3 separate regions of the Homo sapiens genome follow, and regions 1 and 3 are each linked to region 2. Evidence: fine-mapped expression QTL. A gene starts in region 2. Each other region holds a variant in brackets. All regions are shown on one strand. Distances are from middle to middle. Region 1 overlaps LINC00299 (long intergenic non-protein coding RNA 299). Region 2 holds the start of ID2 (inhibitor of DNA binding 2). Region 3 has its middle 86 kb from the start of LINC00299.

Region 1 (2,655 bases), 380 kb before region 2:
AGCTGGGACGGCCCATCAGAGTTGTCCCAAGTTGAGGCAAGAGGGCCGAGCCTTTGCGTTCCTTCCTCGGTCAGTTTCAGAACCTGGGGGATATGACCTGAAAAGAGGCCATTCCCTGCAGCAGGAGGGGGCATCCAGTGCGGGCTCTGCCATGGCCATCATCAACTGTCACTGCAGCTAGCGGGGAGACCTGGGCAGAGCACCCCAATGGTCACTGCAGCCGAAAGAGGACTGCTTGTCTTTCTGCTCTCACACCCCTTACCTAGGGAAGAGCAGAGAAAGGGTTGCTTGAATGGGAGGAATAGCAAAGAGAACAAAGAAATCCCAATGAGGGGAAACCTCTCAGCGCACCAGCCTCACTGTGTGCTGAGAGGCACCCACTGCCTTCCCTGCACTCCTTAGATCTTGTTCATGGGTGGTTGTTTGTTGTTGTTGTTGTTGTTGTTGTTGTTGCTGTTTTTAATGTAAGAAACAGAATCTTGCTGTGTTGACCAGGCTGGTCTCAAACTCCTGGCCTCAAGCGATCCTCCCCCCTCAGCCTCCCAAAGCACTGTGATTACAGGCGTGAGCCACTGCATCCAGTCTCATTCATCTTTTTGTACCATATTCTCTGTCCCACCACTCAGAAATATCTCAGGTGCTGTACTAGTGCCTTACACATCCTGGACCCTCAGTGCTGTCTCAAACTCCTGGCCTCAAGCAATACTCCCCACTCAGCCTCCCAAAGCACTGTGATTACAGGCGTGAGCCACTGCATCCAGCCTCATTCATCTTTTTGTACCACATTCTCTGCCCCACCACTCAAAAATATCTCAGGTGCTGTGCTAGTGCCTTACACATCCTGGACCCTCAATGCATAGCATGGTAGCACCAAAAGGTGTGAAATACAGAAATGAAATCATTAAGTGAGTCATTCATACCCATCATGGTTATTTATACGGTAATTTATATGGTCAAGCTTGACCGTCTTGGAGGGCTGCTGTCATCACAAAGCAGAACAAGGCCCACCAGGACACCCTGACCTCGTGCAGTGAGCCGGCCCTCAGGCTTGCACAACAACAACCCCCAAACACTGGCATGTTCCCAGCTGAGCCAACATGCACCAGACCCACCCAAACGTGGCCACATCGGAGCCATCTAGAAACCGATTTGAACACTGCTTCTTGTGGTGAGGGACAGGAAACCAAGAGGACACAGGGGGC[C/G]GTGTCGAGGTTAACAGGGAGGGCTGCAAGCCCAGATCTCTGGTTTCTGTTCCTCTCCAGCGTTCATCCTCTCCTACTGTTGTTAAAAATCAAATGTAAGATGCAGAGAGCCAGTCCAGGCTGTCCAGAGGACAGGGCTGAGCCTCGCTCCCCACTCCATTCCCAGGGCCTAGCACAGGGCCTGGCACAGAGGCCATATCACAAGTCAAGAAGGAAATCTTTCCTTTCTGCCAACCCTGGATCTTCCCAGAGAGGAGCCCTGTGTCCTCTTGAGGGCAGGATGGGTGGTCAAGGCAGGGACGCGGTAAAAACTAAGGTCGTACACCAGCAAGCTATCGACAAGCATTTAGAAAGCTGTGTCTCAACCAAGATAGTTATTGCAGCTTTATTTGTGTTATCAATAGTCAAAAAAAGGGGGGGGGGAAGACAACTTACTCTGAGCCCTAGGGTGCCTTGTCATAGGAGGTTCTGGGGGTAGGTACACAGTTACTATTTATCCCATGAATAAAAGGGTGGATGGAAATAGGCCAGGAGTTGGGGAACTTCACACAACAAAATCCAAACTGAATGATGGTGAGCCAAAACACAAAAATAACACAAAAGACCCCAAATTGTTACTGTATTTAGAAATAAGACCCAAATTATTATAAAAAATTGTCAGATTGCTACAAGGCAATTTTTTGGGTGCTATAAAAGGCCTCTGGCCCAGGGGCCTAACAGCCTCCTAAAAGAGGATATCAGGAAAAGCAAGTCGCTAAATAGAAGAAAATAAAAGAAAAGGAACTCGTCAGTCAAACTGCATCCTGCCTAGCAGGGAATCCACACACTCAGGGAATCTCAGATCCCAGGACTTCAGACTGAGATGGACTCGGTGTCTCTGGCCAATGAGAACCAAAGTCCTTCACACATCATGCTCCCTGAGACAAGAAAACGTAGGTATGCTTTAGGGGAAGAACAAAAACAGACAAGGGCAGTGGGAGTTTTGATTAGCATAATCTTTACAAATCCTTGCTTTGGAATTCCAGCTTGGCCACCTACTACATCATTTGGGCAAGTTTCTTAACCTCCCAGAACCTCAGTGTCCTCATCTGTAAAATGGCAATTATGAGAACGCTACCTACTTCATCACAGTGGCGTAAAGACTTACTAAGATAATTCCCGTTAAGTGCTTAGCACGTCGCCCTCCAAGCAGTCTGTTATTTTTCTGATGTGTCAATGTCACCATTCACCTGCTGTGCAGTTTTGAGCAGATGATGAACGCATGTGTCCTCCAGGAGCTCCTTCTGCGACATCCCCTAGGCAGCCCGACATGACTCAGCAACACGGTGCTAGGGCCAGATCCCTGGCTAGACACCGAGGTGTGGGGCCCTCGTCTCTGACCTGCCATTGAGCCACAGTGTGAAGCCTAAGCAAAGCCATTTCTCTAGGGACCTTGGCTTAGTTTTCTGGTAAA
Region 2 (2,802 bases):
CCACTCTGCCTCCCTGGAGAGGCGTCATGGGGCGCATAGCTGTCACGTGACGGTCAGAGACTGCTGGCCCCACCAGCTGAGAAATTAATCATTAATTGAAGGAAAAAACACTGTTTCCCCATTATCGAGCTTTTCTTTCAGCTTCTAGGCCTGCCCCTTCCGCTTTCTGAAATGCAAAGGAGGTAGAGATTGAGGCAGAAAGTAAATAAGATTTGAATATTGCCTTTCCTGGAGTTTTCTAGTTCATTGTTTTCTGGAGCAAATATTTTCAAAAACAAGAAACTGACACACTGTGGTCAAAACAGAATTCTAGATAAGCTACAATTATGTGAAAATTAAGGTATTTAAGTAAATAGCTGCAAACTTTTTAAAACTTAGACTGAAAGAACGAGTTCTTAAAAGATTTTCAGCCAAAAAAAAAAAAAAAAACCTTGAACCCGTATTCAGTACTAGTGCTGAAAAGATTCCAAACCTCATATGACAGAATATTTTTTTTTCCTTAGTGTGAAGATGTCTATCAATGGCTAGGGCCACCTATCTGTCACAAAGCTTTGGAACTCCTCTAGGTGTTGGAATGTGACACCAGAAATCACAATTAGTGCATAATTAATCACATTACTTTGCCACCTACACGGAAGGGCACAGACCGGCAGCCTTTCAAGGGCAGTGTATGTAAATGTAGTTTCAATATGCAAATTCTCCTAATTATTTCCGATTAATACGATCATTATAATAGCCCTGCCTCCTTCTTGAAAAGGAACCCTGAAAGCGCCCTGCCTGTGAGAGCTCCTTAGCGACCGGTGAGGTTGGGCATGGTTTGCAATAAGTACTCATTTTCTTGAGTTTACAGTAATGCCTCCCGCGCTGCTCCGGGTTGCAAAAGCCCACACTAAGCCTGTCGTCGAATGCGTGCGTGGGTGGTTTGTTTGTGTTAACATAACTTTTCCTTATCTGAAGAGACGAACTCACTCTACAAACGTGACTCTTCAGTGACAACCTAATTTGCGTTTTCACTTTCTTCTGAAATGCTTTCTATCTTTCCTCACGCTCTCCCTCCGATGGGTTGCAGTGAACTGTGGCTTCCCCCCTGCGGTGCTGAACTCGCCCGTGTAGCTGTGATTTTAGAGCTGCCGACAGCTCTAAGGTGTGTAGGGCTTGGTCTGGGAACACCCCCAGGGCAAGGGTCCCGCCGCGCGCTTGGAATTAGAATTAAGAATGCATATTTAGGCGCCCAGGGTCTGCCCCCTTCTCCCTCCTCCTTCCCCTCCCCCTTCCCCTCCCCCTTCCCCTCCCCCATCTTCCCTTCTCTTCCTCCTCCCTCCTCCTCTCCCTCCTCCCGCCTCCCTCCTCCCCGCCCCCCGCCCGCCGCTCCCCGCCCCCCGCCCCCCGCCAGCCCCGCACTTACTGTACTGTACTCTATTTACCACCCCAGCTGGGCTCGCGCCCCGCCCACCCCGCGGGGATTGGCTGCGAACGCGGAAGAACCAAGCCCACGCCCCGCGCCCGCGCCCACCAATGGAAGCGCCCGCTCGTCTTGATAGACGTGCCACCTTCCGCCAATGGGGACGAAGGGAAGCTCCAGCGTGTGGCCCCGGCGAGTGCGGATAAAAGCCGCCCCGCCGGGCTCGGGCTTCATTCTGAGCCGAGCCCGGTGCCAAGCGCAGCTAGCTCAGCAGGCGGCAGCGGCGGCCTGAGCTTCAGGGCAGCCAGCTCCCTCCCGGTCTCGCCTTCCCTCGCGGTCAGCATGAAAGCCTTCAGTCCCGTGAGGTCCGTTAGGAAAAACAGCCTGTCGGACCACAGCCTGGGCATCTCCCGGAGCAAAACCCCTGTGGACGACCCGATGAGCCTGCTATACAACATGAACGACTGCTACTCCAAGCTCAAGGAGCTGGTGCCCAGCATCCCCCAGAACAAGAAGGTGAGCAAGATGGAAATCCTGCAGCACGTCATCGACTACATCTTGGACCTGCAGATCGCCCTGGACTCGCATCCCACTATTGTCAGCCTGCATCACCAGAGACCCGGGCAGAACCAGGCGTCCAGGACGCCGCTGACCACCCTCAACACGGATATCAGCATCCTGTCCTTGCAGGTAAGACCTGCTCCGGGGTCCCCGCCCCGCCGCCGCACACTCCCGCGGTCGTCTGGGCTGTCACTAGGAGATCCGTAGCCCAGACGGTGACTTTCGTATGAGCTATTTAACTTTATTTTCTTCAGAATCTGCTGTAGATTGAGCTGTGCGTGAAATTGCTAGTAAGTTCTGACATGTTAATGCGTCTGTCTTTAAATCTGAATTGTTACCATAAACGTGTTTAATGGAACTTGCTGGTCTGTGGACTACAAAAAAAAAAAAAAAAAAAAAAAAACCCTTTCTACTTAACATTGTCTTAACCTCGTACTCTTTATCCTCTTTCTTTCCAGGCTTCTGAATTCCCTTCTGAGTTAATGTCAAATGACAGCAAAGCACTGTGTGGCTGAATAAGCGGTGAGTGTTTGCTTGTGCCACCCGTGGGTAAACTGCCCCTCGGTGTGTGTGCGCGCGCGCGCATGTGTTTTTGCTTGTGTATCTATAAAATGTCTGATTTGGTAAATGCATGCTTACTTCGCGGTGTTACCCGTACTACATTGTCTCACTAGACATGAAGGAGCTTGTAGCTTTGGGTGCTCGAGATCACAGAACATTTTCCTTTAAAAGGAAATGATGCCAATAACTTACTACGAAGGCGGCCGAGGAACGTGTGTATTGGCTTTGTAGCAAATGTAATGCCCTGGATCTTCCTACGAGTCCTCTGGTACTATGAG
Region 3 (2,802 bases), 270 kb before region 2:
ACCTTGAGGGCTTTTTTTCCCCTTCCTTTTTCTGCCAGACGCACTTCCTGCTGCATTGAGAGACTTTTGGAAGGTTCGCCTTTCCCTCAAATTTCTCATGATGTTGAAGAACTATAATCGCCACTGAATGGTCCAGTTTAGCACAGAGAAAGCCAACCAACATTCACCAGCAGACTTTAAATGCTGACAGTTGAAACAGCCAAGAAAAGTTCATTAAGTGCTAAGCAAGAAAAAGAGCAAGAAAATGAGACAGAATCGCTCCCTGGGGCATTGCAAAAGCAGGCCTTTGTGAGGAAACATTCCTGAAGGAATCTGGGGAAATGACATTGTAAAACTGCAACAGACGGCAGGATAGGACAACAGGCTCCCAAATAACTGCATGGCACCACACCAATGCTCCTTGTGGAGGGAGAGCACATCACAGAGCCCCTTGAGAGGCAGGCTGGAGAAGGCTGCCCCAGCACACCCGAACATCAAGGCGTTTTCAAACTTCTCAATTTTCTTTTCTTTTCTTTTTGTTTTGTTTTGTTTTGGAGACACAGTCTCTCTCTGTCACCCAGGGTGCAGTGCAGTGGTGCCATCTCAGCTCACTGCAATCTGCCTCCCGGGTTCAAGCAATTCTCATGCCTCAGCCTCCCAAGTAGCTGGGACTACAGGCACACCACCACACTCAGCTAATTTTTGTATTATTAGTAGAGACAGAGTTTCACCATGTTGCCCAGGTTGGTCTCGAACTCCTGGCTTCAAGCGATCCACCCGCCTCAGCCTCCCAAAATACTGGAATTATAGGTGTGAGCCCCCGCATCCAGCCTAAACTGTTTCTTTAAAGACCATTTGTACTCCCCTTGCCTCAGCACCAAAGGGAATGAGAATTCAGGGAAGCATGCCTCCCCCCTCTCAGTTTGCAGTTGAAAACTGGTCAAGAGGAACCAGGTACATTTGGGTTTTTTCTAAAGAAGCCAAGGATAAAAACCATGGCCACTATACCATGGACAGCTTTGAAATGAACAGAATTGTTTTCACACACAGGACCAGCCAGAGGTAAATGTGCCTCTTCAAAAAATGTGGTGTCAATGCAATGTGCAGAAACTGTCAGGGGTGGGGGAAGGGGACTCTAAGTAGGATGGTCATATCCTGTATTGTCCACACAAGGTCATTTTTGAGAGCAGAAGGAGAAGTTACTACTTACAACA[C/T]CTGGACAATTCGTTGCAAACCAGCGCTACCCAGGCAAATAAGTGAGTCTGGCCACCTCACCCTGAGTAACGTACTCTGTGAACAAATTGCTGAGGTGAGGAGAAAGAATATCTGGGTTGTAGAGGCAAACACATACTTTTAAAAAAATAAATAAAGAGGCTCTCTCTGGACTTAGTACTTTGACTTTTTCCTGATGCAGTTACAGTCCAAATCACATAGGCATTTCTTATCAGCAAAAGCAGCCAATAAAATACAGAAGGACCGTGAGAGAGATGGGCCAGAGCTCTTGTGAAAGTCTTTCAACACACTGGCGGGCTTCTGCCAACAGGAAAACATTTAGCAAGAGGTGTGCAAGCTATTTGTAGATACAACCCGATCATTCAAAGGTAACTATGATCTGGCACACAACAGCATGTACCCTTTAAAAATAAGCCCATAAAAGTGAAGCTTTGCTTCACATGTCTAAGTGTTTCTGCATTATATATATGATGAATATATATATATATATATTCCAATCAGGTGATTTTGAAAAAGTGAGAAACAGATATATTACCTGGGCACTGGAAATGCCCAGGTTCCTCAGACTTCAGAACTGGCTGAGCCCACAGCACTGCCCTTGCCGGCTACTTCAGGGACAGGTGATTTGAGGCAAGCCTTCTTCAAGTCTGCACCCCAAAAAAATCACCTGGAAAAATCTGAAGTCAGGATAACTACAGTTAAAAAAAAAAAAAAAAAAGCCCAGCAGATAGTGCGAACAAACAGACAAACAACAAAAATCAAGAGTGTTGTCTTGCAGCAGGTTCTTCTGTTCAGTGGCCAAAATTTTACTCCTGGATCCTTCATTTTAAAAATTAATAAATATGGCCAGGCGTGGTGGTTCATGTCTGTAATTCCAACACTTTGGAAAGCTGAGTGTGTGGATCTCTTGAGCTCAGGAGTTCAAGACCAGCCTGGGTGACATGGTGAAAGCCCATCTCTACAAAAAATTCGAAAGTAGCCAGGCATGGTGGCATGCACCTGCCTGGCTACCCAGCTACTCAGGAGGCTGAGGTGGGAGGATCAATTGAGCCCAGGAGGTCCAGGCTACATTAAGCCATGATCACATCACTGCACTCCAGCCTGGGTGACAGGGGGAGACCCTGCCTCAAAAAAATAAAAATAGACCTAAGTCCTCTTGACTCATCCTCAAATGCAAACCTAAAGGAGAAAGGGGGCTTCCCGCCCACCTCAGATCTCCACTTCTGTGCAGCCACCTCGCAGTGATGCTCCTGGTGCTGGAACATAATGAGGGGTCATGAGGAAGACATTGTCAAAATCCTCAGAGAGGGAAGAAGGAGTGGCTGCCTCCCAGCACAGAGGCCAAGTTGCAAGTTGACGCAGCCTAGCTGCGAGGCAGCCACACAGGCACACGGCACTGGGTGGGAACAGTTGGCCCTCTGGGCTCAGCACACCTACTGGTCTTGAGCAAGTCCTTCATCCTCTGGAGACAAGCTGTGACTTGGCTCATCTCAGATGGAGACGATGCACAAAGAGCAGGTTGCTGAGCACTCAGTGCCAGACAAGCCCACCAATTTTTAACATTGTGTTAAAAACTGTGTATTCTGTGTG

What was found.
Region 1: its variant is fine-mapped to the expression of ID2 in whole blood (TOPMed, PIP above 0.99).
Region 3: its variant is fine-mapped to the expression of ID2 in whole blood (TOPMed, PIP 0.97).

The regions. Positions count from the first base shown.
Region 1 is chr2:8,302,527-8,305,181 of GRCh38, forward strand. The region is part of intron 2 of LINC00299 (long intergenic non-protein coding RNA 299); the gene reads right to left. Among named protein-coding and RNA genes, the nearest start is that of LINC00299, 25 kb to the right of the region's middle. RefSeq lists an enhancer at 1,352-1,571. The variant C/G (reference allele first, on the strand shown) is at 1,203.
Region 2 is chr2:8,680,422-8,683,223 of GRCh38, forward strand. It overlaps ID2 (inhibitor of DNA binding 2), which reads left to right and starts at 1,635. Exons shown (of 3, transcript NM_002166.5): 1 at 1,635-2,092; 2 at 2,422-2,485. The coding sequence starts at 1,745. The coding sequence ends at 2,478. It overlaps ID2-AS1 (ID2 antisense RNA 1), which reads right to left and starts at 1,442. Exons shown (of 4, transcript NR_110154.1): 1 at 1,406-1,442. RefSeq lists enhancers at 834-1,337, 1,825-1,874.
Region 3 is chr2:8,412,528-8,415,329 of GRCh38, forward strand. No RefSeq gene overlaps it. Among named protein-coding and RNA genes, the nearest start is that of LINC00299, 86 kb to the left of the region's middle. The variant C/T (reference allele first, on the strand shown) is at 1,194.